Homo sapiens: one gene and its partners. The protein of the gene in region 1 purifies or fractionates together with the protein of each later gene. This does not show direct contact. Each region holds a gene or a part of one and is shown in the gene's direction. Other genes may lie near its edges.

Region 1 (7,123 bases):
TCCGACCTGGGGATGTTTTGGCCAGCAGAAGTAATTTCTCAGCTCATTTACATTGTCTAATATCCCTCCTGCAGATATTTGTTTTAAAAACAACAACAGCAAGATGCATGTTAGCCCACATGAGTCTCTTAGAAATGGATAAGATTTTTTTTTTTTTGACAGAGTCTCACGCTGTGGCCCAGGCTGGAGTGCAGAGGCACGATCTCGGCTCCCTGCACCTCCACCTGCCGGTTCAAGTGATTCTCCTGCCTCAACCTCTTGAGTAGGGTAGCTGGGACTATAGGGGTGTGCCACCATGCCCGGCAATTTTTTTTTGTATTTTTAGTAGAGACAGGGTTTCACTGTTTTGGCCAAGCTGGTCTTGAACTCCTGGCCTCAGGTGATCTGCCCTCCTCAGCTTCCCAAAGTGCTGGGATTACAGGCATGAGCCACTGCGCACAGCTGGCAATGGCTAAGATTTTTTGATGATTCAACAACAACAACAAAAATGGGACAATGAAGCAATGTGCACAGTGACAGCGGAGAGGGCGAGTGAGGGGCAAGGCCGAAGGGCTGATCTGCCAGGAGTCCAGCATCTGTCCGAGCTGCTTTCAATCTCCTCAGGAGCTTGGGGCACAGACCTTCTTACCTCCTCTCCCTCAACCTCCCTCCTGCTTGGGGGCTTTGGCAACTGGGGTTGAGGTGGGAATGGAACTCTGGAGTTCTACTCACTGGCTTGCTCTCTCAATTTGACAACATATTGTGAAATATCGTACACAAATCAGCTTAAAGAACTCTCATGTACACACCACCAATTACCAAAAGCTTTGAAGCTTGATCCCCGCACTCCTACTGTGTCCCCTTTCTCCTTTCATCTCTCCCCGCTCCCCAGAGATAACCCCTCTCCTGAATTAGGTGTTTATCTTTCCCATTTTTTTCTGTATAATTTTGGGTCTTTATGGTGATAATTCAAACATTAAGCAATGGAAGTCACTTTCGTCTGCTGTTTTTCATACTCTCCCAGAACTCTAAGGGTTCCCCACAGCACGCCTGCGGCATACTGTCACCGAATTTCTTTCCCTCCACCTCCACTGACCTGGAATGTTCTTTCCGAGAACTTCTGGCCCCCATCATTGCAGGGGTACTTTGACAAGAAGACTGCTGTATGTTATTTGTTATTTTCACGTAAGGCATAAGTCATGTTAGTTTCACCTACAGCATGTGCGTGCATTGTGTACATAGTGAAAATAAACCCTGGTCAGATGCTTGAGGTCAGCCTCCCTCTCTGCCTGGTCTGTCTCGCTCCATCGTAATCACCTGTCTCATCTGCCAAAATCTAAGCTTTTCAACGGCCTTTTCATTGTCACATCCCAAATTCCAAGCCTGAAGGGTGTTCTGGGCTCCCCATAAGTGTTTGTTGGGTGCATGGTTGATTGAAGGAATGTATAGTGTGAGAATGGTAGCTTGAGGAGGAAAGTCTATGGGAACTTGTTAATGAAAGTGTACTTGTTCCTGCCTGACAGAAATGTAAGAAAAATTGAATGCAGTAAAAAATGGAGGTCAGACGAGGTGGTTCACCCTTGTAATCACAGCACTTTGGGATGCTGAGGTGGGTGGATCACTTGAGCCCAGGAGTTTGAGACCAACATGGTGAAACCCTGTCTCTACAAAAAATACAAAAATTAGCTGGGTGTGGTGGGGAGGCTGAGGTGGGAGGATTGCTTGAGCCTGAGAGGTTGAGGATGCAGTGAGCTGTGATCATGTCACTGCACTCCATCCTGGGTGATAGAGCGAGACCCAATCCAAAGAAAAAGAAATGATGGGGGACTTCCTGTTGCTTCTTTGTTTGGGCCTCAATGGTTTAAATGATTGAATTGTCAAAATAGGAGGAATTGAGATCTGCAGATGGTTAATACCATTCAAAGGTATCAGCCGACACCATGAAACATTGATTTTTTAATGTACATTCAAATATACCACCACTTCGACAATAACAACAACATGATGATGATGATGAGAGGGACTTCCTCTCAAAGCTCCCAGCAGCATTTTCCATCACTTTGTTGCATGAACTCTTCATCAAAATCAGATATGAGGAGAAGTATGCCAGATGTTAGTGAGGACTAAGATGTTGGTTAGAATTTTTCTCAGGGTGGTATCTTCATGAATATTGGGCATTAACTCTCAACAGCTGCTTCCCTCTCACATGCTGCAAGTGTCATGTCTGTTTGGCCTCAGGAGATATTAAGCCAGCTGCAGGGAAGAGAAAGTTAAAGGCAAAGAGTTTGCCCACTCCAGTCAGGTCTTCTCAGAGCACAGAGGTTTTTTTATAGAACTCTCTCCGGTCCAGAGTCTGGGTCTCTTTACCAGAAGCTGCTTGGCTTCAGGCTCCACCAGCCTGAGGTTGAGGTTCTCTGGGAAGGTGCCCCGGGAGAAGCCCCAAACCTCTCTCTGAAGGGAAGAGGAGATGGGCCCTTGTCAGCACTCCTATTTTCCCAAAGCCCTGAGGTTCCACCTGTGCAATCCCATCTGTTGCCAATTTGAGATTTAACCACGTCGGCTCTAAGAAGTTGCTCTCACCTGTTGGTTTCCTTCTTGTCTTCTCCTATGTTCTCAGCAGCTTCTAAAGGAGCCCCTCATCTCTCCTGTCTCCCACAGGGCCTCCAGGATAGATTGTTCTCCTCTGAAAGTGACAACAGCCTGTACTTCACCTACAGTGGCCAGCCCAACACCCTGGAGGTCAGAGACCTCAACTACCAGGTAGAGGCACGCCTGGGTTCAAGGGGAGAGGAGCAGGCAGGGACAGCCAGGAAATTCCCCGGGTGGAAATAAAAGGGTGGGCCCAACTTGCAGGCCCTCTGCCCGCAAGGACAGAGTCCAGTCCACATTGATGCCTCACGTGTCAGGTGCAATAGGTGTCATCAATGGCATATATCAGAGCTGGAGGTTGAGAGGCTTGAAAAGAGAATAAAACTGTTGTATAAACATAAAACAAAATGCGTGAACCTATAGAAAAATGTCTCTGGGACTCTTTTTAAACTATATTTTGAAATAACTTTAGATTTTGGAAAAAATTGCAAAAATAACACAGTGTTTCCATATACCCATTGTCCAGCTTCCCCTAATGTTAACATCTTGCATACCCATAGTATAATTATGAACACTAAGAAATGAACAATGTACAATGCTATTAACTACAGACTTTATTCAGATTTCATTAGTTATATATATATGTGTGTGTGTGTGTGTGTATATATATATATATATATATAATTTTTTTTTTGTAAAATGTACTATCCCTGGAGCTTATAAAACATCCAGAGTGCAAAGACAATGACTGACCTTTCAGAGGCACCCAGGAACCCCCTGGTCAGATTCAAGGATCCATATTCCCACAGCTCCCCAGGGACCCAGATGGGACATGGTGGGGTCTGGGATGGTGAACTTCAGAGGCCTGAGTCTGGCTTCCTGTGGGTGTGAGTTGGGACAAGCCAATGAGCCTTTCTCTGCTCTGCCACTTACCAGCTGTGTGACCTTGAGCAAGTTGCTTAACTGCCCTGAGCCTCATCTGTAAAACAAGGATTCTGAGCATATCTATGTTATAGATTTGCAGTGAGGATTGAATAAGGTGATGGATGTTAAGTGATTAACACAATGTCTTGCACATAGTAAACATCTGATAAATTATTAGTAAATTACTAGTATCAAGTGAAGACATTTTGCTTCGTGTTTTATTTTTATTTCTGTACCACTATTGCACATGATTTTCTTTTTTCCTTACTTTTTTTTTTGAGATGGAGTCTCATTCTGTCACCCAGGCTGGGATGCAGTGGTGCAATCTTGGCTGACTGCAATCTCTGCCTCCCAAATTCAAGTGATTCTCCTGCCTCAGCCTCCCAAGTAGCTGGGATTACAGGCAACCACCACCATGCCTGGCTAATTTTTGTATTTTTAGTAGAGGCGGGGTTTTACCATGTTGGCCAGGCTGGTCTCAAACTCCTGACCTCAGGTGATCCACCTGCCTCAGCCTTCCAAAGTGCTGAGATTACAGGCATGAGCCACCATGCCTGGCCTGTACATGCTTTTCATTCTTCTTATCTTCAGACCTAGAAACAGCAGCTACAGGTTCTCAGCATGGGTCCTGCTTCCGTGTTTGGTAGAACCTGGGTTGGGGCCTATTGTGTGTAGGTGAGGACATATCCTCTGTGGAGAGGGGCCACCTGGGGAACGAAGATGCTGAACAGAAGTTGCTGAAGCCCTCTGAACCATTCAGCTCTCTAAGGAACCTTCTGATATCTCCCCACAGGTGGACCTGGCCTCTCAGGTCCCTTGGTTTGAGCAGCTGGCTCAGTTCAAGATGCCCTGGACATCTCCCAGCTGCCAGAATTCTTGTGAGCTGGGCATCCAGAACCTAAGCTTCAAAGTGAGAAGTGGGCAGATGCTGGCCATCATAGGGAGCTCAGGTACCGGAAAGGCAAATCGCTGGGCAATGGTTTCTCTCCTGGGATACAGAATGGTCCTTTGGACAAATGGATGCTTCTTATGGAGCTCTTTGCTGACTAGTAGAATAATACAGCAGAATGGCTGAGAACACAGGTTCTGGGTCAGACAGACCTGGGCTCAAATCCTGGCTCCTCCATTTGCTGGCTTGAGGGTAGGTGCTGTTGTTAAGAGTCATGAGTGCGCCTCTTGTCCACCCGAGGCTGTGGCCAGAGCATCTGACTTTGGCTAACACCTGGACGGAGAGATCAGCAAACAGCTCCAGCATGTAATGTTCTTTTCAGACTCCTCCAGCCATGAGGGGCATTGGTTCAGGTTGTTCCTCCACAATCACATTCTGATTATGGCCAGACAGCCCCTGCCACACTCTCACCTCTCAGACAGCCTCTCCAGTGTCTTACTTAGCACAACTTTCACTCATCTGCAAAGAGCCAGGTTCTTGGAGTGCCTCAAATTGTCATTTCCATGGCCAAATTTAAAATGAGAGAATGTCTGAGCTGAAAGGGGGCTTGGGGAACAGAGGTCATTCTCATCATGTTCCACCTTTCTTTCTCCCTACCAGTTTGGAAGCATTTTCAGAGGAAGGTGTTCAAACTCCCTACTCCTCAGTGTGTCTAGAGTATCCTCCTGCACGCGCGCGTGCACACACACACACACACACACACACACACACACACTCCCCTCCATTTGACAGATGAGGAGACTCAAATCCAAAGAAATTGAGGGATTCTCGTAAGGACACATATTTAATGCAGAGCTAGAACTAGAACTTTGGTTTCATCATTCTCGGATCAAGACATTTCTCCCTGGGACACCCTTACATAGTGCTGGAGAGAGCATTTTATATCTTTTAATTAATCATTTCCAGAGGTAGAGATTACTCAATTTTTTAAACATTCTGCTCCAAACTTTTACACCCGTCTGGTAGATAAGTTCTGTTTACCGTATAACCAAAGATCAAATGAAATCTTATGTATAAATGCACTTTGTAACTGAAACAGCATCACAGTCATGAAGTCCCTCTCACTCTGTCCCTGTCCCTGCAATCCTGACCTAAATAAGAAAAAAGTAGATCCCGGCCAGGCACAGTGGCTCATACCTGTAATCCTAGCACTTTGGGAGGCCGAGGCGGGCAGATCACGAGGTCAGGAGATCGAGACCGTCCTGGCTATCACGGTGAAACCCCGTCTCTACTAAAAATACAAAAAATTAGCTGGGTGTCGTGGTGGGTGCCTGTAGTCCCAGCTACTTGGGAGGTTGAGGCAGGAGAATGGCGTGAACCTGGGAGGTGGAGCTTGCAGTGAGTCGAGATCGCGCCACTGCACTCCAGCCTGGGCAACAGAGCACGATCCCGTCTCTTAGAAAGGAATGAATAAATTACACTGAATAGTCTCCTGTTTTGTTTTTTTTGTTGTTGTTGTTTTGTTTTTTTGAGGCAGTCTCTCTCTGTTGCCTAGGCTGGATTGCAGTGGTGTGATCTCGGCTCACTGCAACCCGCTCCTCCTGGGTTCAAGCGAGTCTCATGTCTCAGCCTCCCAAGTAGCTGGGATTACAGGTGGGTGCCACTATGCCTGGCTCATTTTTTTTTGTATTTTTTGTAGAGATATGGTTTTGCCATGGTGGCCAGGCTGATCTCCAACTCCTGGCCTCAGGTGATCTGCTTGCCTTGGCCTCTCAAAGTGCTGGGATTACAGGCATGAGTCACTGCACCGAGCATCTCCTGGTTGTTTATAGATTCAGTGTTGTTTGGCTTCAGGTTTACTTGCCTGTGTAAAAAAAACAAAAACAAAAAACAAAACAACAACAAACAACTTTAGACAAATAAATAGTAGAGTTGTCTGAGCAAATAGTGATTAATGAATCTGGCAGCACTCAAAAACAGGACCAGTTCAGAGGCTCCCCCAAGCAATTTGGTCAGGCAGTATTTATAGACAGAAAAAGGAAGTGCCCTACAGAAATAGCTGATTGGTTACAGTTGGGTGTTCACCTTATTTATTTGAGGGTGATGTGATCAGGTGTTGGGTATGGACAGGAGCTCATCAGTCGGTAGCCTGTGATTGGCTGATGCTTGGCTGCCATGATTGGCTGAGACTCAGCAACTTGTCTCAGCCAGTCTCTGTCTTAAGAGAATATACTGCTAAGATAAGTTGCAGTTTGTTTACATACTAAGTTTGCTTGCAGTTTGCTCTGTGGGAACTCAAAGTATGCAGGCAGCCTCAGGCCAAATTTAGTTTAACTGAGCAGCTGAAATTATTAAAATGATTTATTAGAAAGGTTCATCAACTACACTTCCTGTGACTTTTACTGCCATCCCCCTCTCCCCCTGCCCAACATACACACAAAAGAACGCTGGCCATAATTTTTAAAATACAAAGAAAACAGCCAGGCTGGGCACGGTGGCTCATGCCTGTAATCCCAGCACTTTGGGAGGCTGAGGCAAGTGGATCACCTGAGGTCAGGAGTTCGAGACCAGCCTGGCCAACATGGTGAAACCCTGTCTCTACTAAAAAAAAAATACAAAAAATTAGCTGGGCGTGGTGGCACGTGCCTGTAATCCCAGCTACTTGGGAGGCTGATGTGGGAGAATCGCTTGAACCCTGGAGGTGGAGGTTGCAGTGAGCTGAGATTGCACCATTGCACTCCA
Region 2 (3,855 bases), on another chromosome or scaffold:
ACCTGGGGAGTGCAGTAGCACCTGCCCAGTGGGGCTCTTGAGCCCAGGAACTGCTACACTCTGAACCCCACTCGTACTAGGGGCTCAGTAACAAGCAGCCGCCAGTGTGGTTCCTATATCCCGGGACTTCGCCTGTCTCCTGCGGATCACAGCCAGTGACTACTGTGCTCTTGGAGAAAGGTCCAGCCTCCAGCTTCCCAGGCTTCATTTGCATCCATCTCGCAGGCCCCAGCTCAGGCTCGTGCCCACCCACCAAGTTCCAGTGCCGCACCAGTGGCTTATGCGTGCCCCTCACCTGGCGCTGCGACAGGGACTTGGACTGCAGCGATGGCAGCGATGAGGAGGAGTGCAGTGAGTGGCCACGCCCCTTGGCGGGGCTTACAGGGGGCGGGGCCTGAGGGTGGTTTGTCAGGGGCCAGGCACGCGGAGGTGGAGCTTGTGGGAAAGGCAGGGCCGCAGGGATGGGTGCGACTTGGGTCTGTGGGTCATAAGAAGCGGGGTCTAAGATGGGCTTGGGCTGGGCGCAGTGGCTCACGCCTGCAATCCCAGCACTTTGGGAGGCTAGGGTGGGAGGATCGATCACTTGATCCTGGGAGGTTGCCGCTGCAGTGAGCTAGGATTGTGCCAGTGCACTCCAGCCTGGGCAACAGAGTAAGACTGTCTCAGGAAAAAAAAAGAAAAAGAAAAAAAAAAGAAAAATGAAAGAAAGGAAAGAAAGGAAGGAAAGAGAGAGGGAGGGAGCCAGGTACGGTGGCTCACACATGTAATCCCAGCACTTTGGGAGGCCAAGGCAGGCGGATCACTTGAGGTCAGGCGTTCGAGACCAGCCTGGCCAACACAGTGAAACCCCATCTCTACTAAAAATACAAAAGTTAGCTGGATGTGGCGGCAGGCCCCTGTAATCCCAGCTAGTCAGGAGGCTAAGGCAGGAGAATCACTTGACCCTGGGAGGCAGAGGTTTCAGTGAGTCGAGATTGCGCCACTGCACTGCAGCCTGGGCAGCAAAGGGAGACCCCGTCTCAAAAGAAAAAATAAAGAAAGAAACAAACAAACAAATAGAATAAAGTGGGCTTGTAGGAAGGTAGAGCTAGTGGGGTCTCAGGGGAAGAGCTTGCAGGGAGGCCTGTCCTTAGAAAGTGGAGTTAACAGTTGCAGGGGGCGGAGCCTTAGGAAGGGAGCATTTTTTTGGGCTCAGCTGTTCTTAGAGGGTGGGGCTTGCAGGGGATGGGGTTTCAGGGAGTACCTGGGCCTTCTTGGGTGGGCATTTGGGACCTGACCAACCCTGTGCCCCAGGGATTGAGCCATGTACCCAGAAAGGGCAATGCCCACCGCCCCCTGGCCTCCCCTGCCCCTGCACCGGCGTCAGTGACTGCTCTGGGGGAACTGACAAGAAACTGCGCAACTGCAGCCGCCTGGCCTGCCTAGCAGGCGAGCTCCGTTGCACGCTGAGCGATGACTGCATTCCACTCACGTGGCGCTGCGACGGCCACCCAGACTGTCCCGACTCCAGCGACGAGCTCGGCTGTGGTATGCACCTGCGGGGCTGGGGTGGACTCGTGGGTAGATGGGGACACCCACTGCCTGCTGGGGCGTGGCCAGGCTGGGGGCGTGGACACATGCCTTTGCCCGTGCCTGCATCCCTGTGGGGGAATCAAGACATCATTAGGGGCCGGGCCCGGTGGCTCACGCCTGTAATCCCAGCACTTTGGGAGGCTGAGGTGGGCGGATCATCTGAGGTCAGGATTTCGAGACCTGCCTGGCAAACACTGCGAAACCCCGTCTCTACTAAAAGTACAAAAAAATTTGCTGGGCATGGTGGCACACACCTGTAATCCGAGCTACTCAGGAGGCTGAGTCAGGAGAACCGCTTGAACCTGGGAGGCAGAGGTTGCAGTGAGCTGAGATTGGGCCACTGCACACCAGTCTGGGTGACAGCAAAACTCTGTCTCAAAAAAATTTAAAAAAGGCCGGGCACGGTGGCTAACGCCTGTAATCCTAGCACTTTGGGAGGCCGAGGCAGGCAGATCACCTGAGGTGAGGTGTTCGAGACCAGTCTGGCCAACATGGCGAAATCCTGTCTCTACTAAAAATACAAAAGTTAGCTAGGCGTGGTGGCGTGCACCTGTAATCCCAGCTACTCGGGAGGCTAAGACAGGATAATTGTTTGAACTCAGGAGGCAGAGGTTTCACTGAGCCAATATTGCGCCACTGCACTCCAGCCTGGGTGGCAGAGCCAGACTCCCTCTCCAAAAAAAAAAAAAAAAAAAGACATAATTACGGGCAGTCAGCTTCACCCAGCCTGGTTGGTTGAGGATAAACCCCAAGGGCTCCCCTGGGCATCTGGCCCCCTCACGCCTTCAGTGCTCTCTCCTCAACTACTGAACGCCTGGGCTTATTGCAGGAACCAATGAGATCCTCCCGGAAGGGGATGCCACAACCATGGGGCCCCCTGTGACCCTGGAGAGTGTCACCTCTCTCAGGAATGCCACAACCATGGGGCCCCCTGTGACCCTGGAGAGTGTCCCCTCTGTCGGGAATGCCACATCCTCCTCTGCCGGAGACCAGTCTGGAAGCCCAACTGCCTATGGGGTTATTGCAGCTGCTGGTAAGAGGGACTTACCCTCCCATGCTGGGGGCTTAGAGCTCCGGGGATTCAGGGGAGGTGGGTGGGGAGGGATGAGCTGCAGAACTCCCATCCCCATGTGTATGGAGCTTGGTGGGTGTGGGGGCTCTTGCCTTCCCCCTCCTTACTCCTCTGTCCATCTGTTCCCCACAGCGGTGCTCAGTGCAAGCCTGGTCACCGCCACCCTCCTCCTTTTGTCCTGGCTCCGAGCCCAGGAGCGCCTCCGCCCACTGGGGTTACTGGTGGCCATGAAGGAGTCCCTGCTGCTGTCAGAACAGAAGACCTCGCTGCCCTGAGGACAAGCACTTGCCACCACCGTCACTCAGCCCTGGGCGTAGCCGGACAGGAGGAGAGCAGTGATGCGGATGGGTACCCGGGCACACCAGCCCTCAGAGACCTGAGCTCTTCTGGCCACGTGGAACCTCGAACCCGAGCTCCTGCAGAAGTGGCCCTGGAGATTGAGGGTCCCTGGACACTCCCTATGGAGATCCGGGGAGCTAGGATGGGGAACCTGCCACAGCCAGAACTGAGGGGCTGGCCCCAGGCAGCTCCCAGGGGGTAGAACGGCCCTGTGCTTAAGACACTCCTGCTGCCCCGTCTGAGGGTGGCAATTAAAGTTGCTTCACATCCTCCGCCTGCCTCTGGGTCTCTGTCTCCCTTGGCCTGGGCAGCCTGGGGTCGCTGCTGCAGCCCCTCCTCCATGAGAGCCCAGCCCATAGAAGGTGGGACATGGACACCCAGCCCTGTGTGCAGCTACTGTGCTGCTTGCTTTTTGGGAGCAGGGGCAGCAGGGCTGGGGTGGGGAGTCTGCGTTAACATCAGGATTCTTGGAAGAAGAGCAGAGCTTGGGCAGTGCCTTCCCATTCCCAGGTCTGGGGACCCCCACCCACTGTGGCTTCCTCCTCAGTGCAGTGGAAGCCAGGTTTCCTGGGATGGTCTCAGACTCACCCTGTTTTAATTATTTTTTAATTATGTTTTTAGAGACTGCGTTTTGGCCGGGCACAGTGGCTCACACCTGTAATCCCAGCACTTTGGGAGGCCGAGAGGTGGGCGGATCACCTGAGGTCAGGAGTTCGAGACCAGCCTGGCCAATATGGTGAAACCCTGTCTCTACCAAAAATACAAAAAATTGGTTGGGTGTGGTGGCAGGCGTCTGTAATCCCAGCTACTCGGGAGGCTGAGACAGGAGAATCCCTTGAACCTGGGAGGTGGAAATTGCAGTGAGCTGAGAT
Region 3 (7,123 bases), on another chromosome or scaffold:
AAGGAAGTTAAGCAGATACGCTGGGGGCAAATGTGTCACAGTGCAATGTAGCTAATGAGGAAACAGCATTAGGTATGTCTCCCAAGAAAGTATTAGTTTGTGGACTAACTGTGGGAATCTGATGATGATGGGTAATGGCAACTAACATTTGAGTTACTATACCCCAGGCACTGTGCTAAACACTTTACATGGCATATCCTCACAGCTTTCCCATCTAGCAGGGAATATTAGGTACATTTTAGAGGAGAACATTAAGGTTGACTGAGCCAAAGTAGCACACCCAAGGTGTGATACAGCCTGCGTTCAAACCCAGGTTGTCCCATACTCTAGAGACTGTGATGTTAGGACAAAGTGTGATTTCAGAAGATTTGTAAAGAGAAGAAAGTTGTTAGAATCACTTCTCTAAAGCATGCTGATTTTGAGATTGCTAAAATTAGAAACTGTACCAGAATTTACATGACACTTTGTTTGGTTTTGAATTAAGTCATTATGAGGAAGTACATTAAAAAATGTTAAAAGGTTCTTCCTGGGAATTTGTAATGCATTCTTCAGTTCTAATAAATGTATTCTTATATGCTGGCCCCTCCCTCCTTTTAATGCCTTGAGATGATGAATAAGTGGAAGAATAAACATACTCTCCATAGAGCTTATCAAATGTTTACCTAGGTTCCCTTGGGCAACTGTAGGCAATAAAAACTATGTTGCATTGGCTCTTCACTGTCAGATGGTAATGGCTGATTGTTAACAAGGGTCAAAGTTTAATTGCTTTGGCAAGACCTTTAAACTACACTTTCTTATGTCTTGATATCCTGATTCTGCTGGCATTTTGTTCATTGAACTGTGACATGGAGATAGATATATACCTGAAATACTCAGGCTGTAAATTATCTGACAGCTAAAATCGTTACTGTTGATTTGGTGTAGATAGTTTGGAACAATGCTGTAATAATGTTACTGTGGAAAGGCACAAACCAAAAGCAGAAACAATCATTTCTAAAATCCTGAAATTTGTCTTAATGGAAATAGGGAACTCCTGCTATGGTTAGAATGTTTGTCCTTTATAAAACTCATGTTGAAACTGAATCCCCAATGTGGCCGTATTGAGAGATGGGGCCTTTAAGAGGTGATTGGGTCATGAGGGCTCTACCCTCATGAATGGATTAATCCATTCATGGATTAATGGATTAATGGGTTTTCATGGGAATGGGACTGGTGGCTTTATAAGAAGAGGCAGAGAGACGTGAGCCAGCATACTCAGCCCCCTCACCACGTGTGATGTCCTGGGCCACCTCAGGACTTTGCAGAAGGCCCTGACCAGCTACGGCCCCTTGACCTTGAACTTCTCAGCCTCCATGTATGTAAAAAAATTTCTTAAATTACCCAGTTTCAGGTATTCTGTTCTAAGCAACAGAAAACAGACTAAGACAGTTTCTCACCAAATTCTAGAATATTAAGATTTGTAGCTTGAAAGATAATCTTGGACAAGTGAAAGGATGTACAGCTTGGATCATCTTGGATCTCTGTTTTTATGGAATGATGAGGCTTTAAATATAAGTGTATTCATGCTGGACCCATGAGGATTTATTGAAGAAGGTTAGAAGTGTTTTAGGTAAATGACTAAATTTTAAAGGCTTTTTTTTTTTTTTTTTTTTTTTTTTTTTGAGACGAAGTCTTACTCTGTCGCCCAGGCTGGAGTGCAGTGGTGCGATCTTGGCTGACTGCAGCCTCTGTCTCCCGGGTTCAAGCGATCTTCCTGCCTCAGCCTCCCGAGTAGCTGGGACTACAGGCGTGCGCCACCATGCCCAGCTAATTTTCGTATTTTTTTAACAGAGACAGGGTTTCACCATATTGGCCAGGCTGGTCTCGAACTCCTGACCTCTTGATCCATCTGCCTTGGTCTCCCAAAGTGCTAGGATTACAGGCGTGAGCCACCGCGCCCAGCAAAGGCTATTGTATTAAATAGGCATTAGCCTATTCTGTAAACTGCACCTTTGTACCAAGGTCAGACAGGATTTTTAGTTTGGTAAGTCATTTAATCTGACCAAAGAGGGCTCGTCTAAAACAAGTTTAAATCAGTACTTCCTACCATTAAGTTTTTATTCCGGTAAATTAATTGATTATTTAATCAAGTCCTATGTTATACAAATTACCTTTACTTTTTTTTTAAACCCTATTAGAAAAACTAATTGGCTAATACTTATTTTGCTCATATTTATCTTAGGCATTACAGGGACTGGAACAGAAAGCTTTGTCCATGCTTATAGAATTTATAATCTTAAATATCTATTTAGGTTGTTGTTTTTCATCTGAGAGGTGATAGTATAAAACTGAGACACCTGTAGAGTGGGGGAAGTACCGCAAAAAAGTCAAACGCCTTTTAAATAAATGCCTTTAGAAATAGCTTTGGAACGTGGCACCTTCACTAACCATCATTCATTCATATGAAATACTTCACACATATAAATTGTAGTTGAAAGCCATATGTAACCTTTAAAACTTATCCTGCCTTTAAAAATAAAACTTATCAGCCAGGTGCGGTGGCTCATGCCTGTAATCCCAGCACTTTGGGACGCCAAGGGTGGCAGATCACCCTCCTGACTAACACGGTGAAACCCCGTCTCTACTAAAAATACAAAAAATTAGCCAGATGTGGTGGTGGGCACTTGTAGTCCCAGCTACTCGGGAGGCTGAGGCAGGAGCATGGCGTGAACCCGGGAGGCGGAGCTTGTAGTGAGCGGCGATCGAGCCACTGCACTCCAGCCTGGGCGACAGAGCGAGACTCCATCTCAAAATAAATAAATAAATAAAACTTATCACGCTTATGTCTGTGAATGTATATAATTAAGGAAAATTTGCTTTGTTAAATATAACACTACTATTTGAGCACCTACTTTGTGCTTATATTGTTGATAAATGATGAAAAGACAGTGAAAAATCCCTATTCTTACAGAACTTACTTTCCGGTGAAGCAAGACACACAAAAATAAACAAGAAAAATGATCAGAGTGATGTGTTATGCAGAGAATTAAAGGGTGATGTGATAAAGTGATTGGGTCGTGCTTTATGTTGGCAAAAAAAATCTGGAGTATAAGAAGTTGCTGACTTGGGTGATTTGGAAGAGATTGGGAGACTGGGGGGATTCAGAACTGAAGGAACAGGCTGTAGGCTGTAAGGCAAAAATATACTTGCTATGTTCAAATTACTAAGAGGTTTATACCGTCATGCTTTTGTTTAAAAAATAAAACTTTATAATGAGGTATTTCAAGTGTGGTTCTCCCTTGTCACAAATCTTGTACATACTTTGTGTTTTCCAGCACATCCTACACATTCGAGGTGGTAATATGATACTTTTAAACCGGAACCTGCATCTGATATCCTGGAATTTGTTTCTCTACTTCCTGTATTTCTCCTATCATGAATGACTGCTCTGACAAAGAATATGTCATGGGACACACCTTCAGCTAACTTTGCTTTTTCATGCTTGTTTTCAATTCACTAGAAGAAAATCTAACTTGTCAGGAAGCAAGTACATAATAGGAAGTGTCTGTCTTAGTTTGTCTTCAACAGTTAAGAAAATGAATGTTTCCACTCTTACTACATTCTTAGTCACCTGTCCACTGACCAAGAGCCTTGTGGCCCTGAGTAATCATTTAGAACTTGGAATCAGCAGGGGCGCTCTCTCTAGTTGCAGTTTAGGGAATGGGTTATTAGCTTTCTAGGATATTTATCATGCTTTGAAATAATTTAATGAATTTTATTCCATAAGATCCAATTCAGGTTAGGCTTGTTTGATTTTTTTTTTCAGAAAATGTATTCCATAAAGTTTGTACTTAGACCAGACGGGTGTACTAAGAATCATTCATGAGTAAATGTGTGTTGAATATCTACCCTTGACCTTTTTTTGAGAAATAGAGTAAACACAGTCCCTGTAGTCTGACAGCTAATGGGGAGAGAGGGTAGACTTTTCATCGAATTAAATTTCTACATGCACCTTTCCCCCAGAAATCTTACTCATGGCTGGTCTCAAGTAAGTCTTTATTGAAAAATATTGACATATCTTCTTCCTCTTCCTTCTCCTCACTGTCTTCCTTTTAGTAGTTAGGCAGAGTTAATAGGTAAGAAAAATTATCTGCATTTATGTGTAGTTTGTAATCTACTAAAGGGGTTCTAGAATAAATGTTGACATTTTGTAACTTACATTGTTGTTGCTACTGATTAAACACATAACCCAAGTGTGGATGAACTCTAGCATTACAAAGCTTAAGCACCTCAGGCTCCTATGATGTTGTAATGGACTCTTTTTACAATTAGAGTAGGGTGGGGTAACAGAGGGTCTCAAAGAAAATGCATATTTAAATTTCAGGCTTCTCAGATAACCTCTGGAGCCCTACTGTCTGGAAACAGCCAGTTTCCATGCTGTTACAATAATTTGGCAATGGCAATTGGTTAATCTCCAGTTTCTTTGCCACCTGAAATTTTGAGTTGTTCAGCCAGTAGATATTGGATTAAATAGAACAACTTTGTTAAGCTGGTTTAATAATGATTATGAAAAACCAAATAGAGAAAAGGTGAAAATAAGGCAGAATTGAGGAGCATGACCTTTGGCATATCATCAGAGTAATAGCAGTAAAAAGGATTAAAATATTTCTAATTTAAGAATAATGGCAATAATAATAGTGATGTTGATGGCAAAAGTGGCTTGTCAGAACTTTAAACTCTTAGCCAGGCTTGGTGGCACATGCCTGTAATCCTAGCTACAAGTAAGACTGAGATGAGAGGATCCCCTGAGGGAAGGAGTCTGAGGCCAGCCTGGGCAACATAGCAAGACCCTGTCTTAAAAAAAAAAAATAGAATTTTCTCATTAGTATAGTGGTGAGTTAAAAAAACACACATAAAACTTTACACCCCAATTTAAGTAGGACTTTAAAAAAAACTTGTCTCCTTGAAAAGTAATATTTATGAGAAAAGGAACATAATGTACATTGAAAGAATTGTGTTAGATAATCAGAAAACATGTACAGGATGAGTCAAAGCCACACAGACCTGAGAAAAGTGGTAAGTGGGAGAGATTGGCAGAGGTGCCTAAAATATTTAGGATGGAAGAGGTGTCTGTTTTTGGTTGGTTAAGGACACATCCAGGAATGAATTCATTGGTGAGAGAACATTAAAGCCTCAATTTCAGACATAATTTTAACTATTATTCTAATTATGCAAGTAATATATTTTAAAGAAGACACTAAAAGTATTTTAAAAAGCAAACTGGTATCACCCATAATTCTACCACCCAGAGACAACCAATATCAACATTTTGGTTTGTTTCCAATATGTGATATATGTGTTTTTTCCCCTATCACACCACAAGCATATTATTAAATGATGCTTTAAGAAAATATTTCAGGGCTGAATGCAGACACACCTCTGAATACCAGGGCTTTTTCATTTTCATTTTTGCAGCCACAATTTCATTACAACATCTCGATGAATTACCTTTTACACAAATCTGTGTTTCTGACTAACTTTCTAAAGGATAGATTCCTGGAAGTGGAATAAGTAGGTATAAAGGCATCAATGCTGAGGCAGATATGTATTGCCAGATTGTTTCCAAAAAAATGATTCTCTATTAGTTTGTGCTTCCGCCCATCTGAGGGCCCTTCTCTCTGCACCCTCACACATCTTTGAATACTCCTTAACTTTATTGCTGATCAGTTTGTTAGGTAGAAAATGATAGTATTTAATAGCTTCAGAAATTCTTGGTAAGAGTAGCTTTAATTTCTGAAAGAGGATTTGGAGTCTTTGGAATGGCCTTTTTTCCTTGAGAGTTGGTAGGAGAGTAAATGATATATTCAGGTAGTGGACTTACATAAGAAGTAGTTGTGTTTAGTGACGTAAACTGTTCTATCAGATTAAGTCAGAGGTGAAAGCATGGTTGAATTAGAGAATATACATTATGGCAAGTAGAATGCTAAACGATTTAAGATGATTTTAAGACACTTGTAATGGCATAAGGGTGAAGTTTGGGGAAGCTTTCAGAAATCCACTGTGTGGAATTACCAACGATTCTTCCCAGGAGAGAAAAGAGGTATATGAAAAATAATATGACAGTACAGGAAACTCTGGATTTAATGTTAAAAAGATATATGCATAAGATGGATTCCTGCCTATTTTTTCCCTCTGCTTTTAAAACCTGCTTTCTTACAAAGTCTAGAGTACAGCATTTTTTGCTCAGTCTTTTACTTCTTGACTTTTTTCCTTTCTCTCAACACTCCAGTCACTTCTACTTTACTAATTGATTCTTTGGCAAAAATCACTCCGAAGGGAGCAGTTCACACAGGCAAGCAAGAATTTGTCAGGCACTGTGCTTTTAGGTGAATAAAGTCCAGATGGTGCCTTGTCTTTACATTGTTTTGATTCTTGCCAGTTCTAGATGGGAATCATCATCAATGGCTACTACATACCACTGCAAGAAAATCACTTCTATTCTTTGCTTCAGCTTCGCCCAAAATGTCCTGTGGGATGCTTTCGCCTTTGTATTTCTAAATCTCCATGTAGGTATACTTTTGGCAACAGAGCTACTTTATCTCCCCACTTGTAGCAAATCTGTTTCATTTTTAATATTGCCACATTCCAATGGCAGGTTACACCGTGGTTGATGAAAAGGAATTTAATAGTTTTACAGATTTTAACTTTTTTTTTTTTAATTTTTTGAGACTGAGTTTTGCTCTTGTTGCCCAGGCTGGAGTGCAGTGGCGCAATCTCGGCTCACTGCAACCTCTGCCTTCCAGGTTCAAGCGATTCTCCTGCCTCAGCGTTTCTGAGTAGCTGGGATTACAGGCATGTGCCACCACGCCCGGCTAATTTTGTATTTTTAGTAGAGACGGGGTTTCTGCATGTTGGTCAGGCCGGTCTCGAATTCATGACCTCAGATGATCTGCCGGCCTTGGCCTCCCAAAGTGCTGGGATTACTGGTGTGAGCTACTGCGCCTGGCCCAGATTTTAACATTTTATCTACTTGTCTCTTTCATAGAATATTTGAAAATTACCCCCCCAAAAACTAGTTTCTAAGCTATGGAAAAAGCAATCTCATATAAGAATGAAATCTCTTTAAGATATTTCACATTTGTGC

Evidence for each region.
Region 2: the proteins of ABCG8 (region 1) and CD320 purify together in Homo sapiens (affinity purification with mass spectrometry; 2 studies listed by BioGRID and IntAct, with this or other methods). This does not show direct contact.
Region 3: the proteins of ABCG8 (region 1) and TSPAN3 purify together in Homo sapiens (affinity purification with mass spectrometry; 2 studies listed by BioGRID and IntAct, with this or other methods). This does not show direct contact.

What each region holds. Positions count from the first base shown.
Region 1 is NC_000002.12:43,841,870-43,848,992, forward strand, and holds part of ABCG8 (ATP-binding cassette sub-family G member 8), read left to right. Parts: intron 1-1,917; exon of another isoform or gene 1,918-2,232; intron 2,233-2,559; exon of another isoform or gene 2,560-2,637; coding exon 2,638-2,739; intron 2,740-4,285; coding exon 4,286-4,442; intron 4,443-7,123. UniProt on the Homo sapiens protein: ABCG5 and ABCG8 form an obligate heterodimer that mediates Mg(2+)- and ATP-dependent sterol transport across the cell membrane.
Region 2 is NC_000019.10:8,301,527-8,305,381, reverse strand, and holds the end of CD320 (CD320 antigen isoform 1 precursor), read left to right. Parts: intron 1-225; coding exon 226-351; intron 352-1,293; coding exon 1,294-1,527; intron 1,528-2,401; coding exon 2,402-2,605; intron 2,606-2,776; coding exon 2,777-2,919; 3' UTR 2,920-3,255; downstream 3,256-3,855. UniProt on the Homo sapiens protein: Receptor for transcobalamin saturated with cobalamin (TCbl). Plays an important role in cobalamin uptake. Plasma membrane protein that is expressed on follicular dendritic cells (FDC) and mediates interaction with germinal center B cells.
Region 3 is NC_000015.10:77,061,110-77,068,232, reverse strand, and holds part of TSPAN3 (tetraspanin-3), read left to right. Parts: intron 1-7,123. UniProt on the Homo sapiens protein: Regulates the proliferation and migration of oligodendrocytes, a process essential for normal myelination and repair.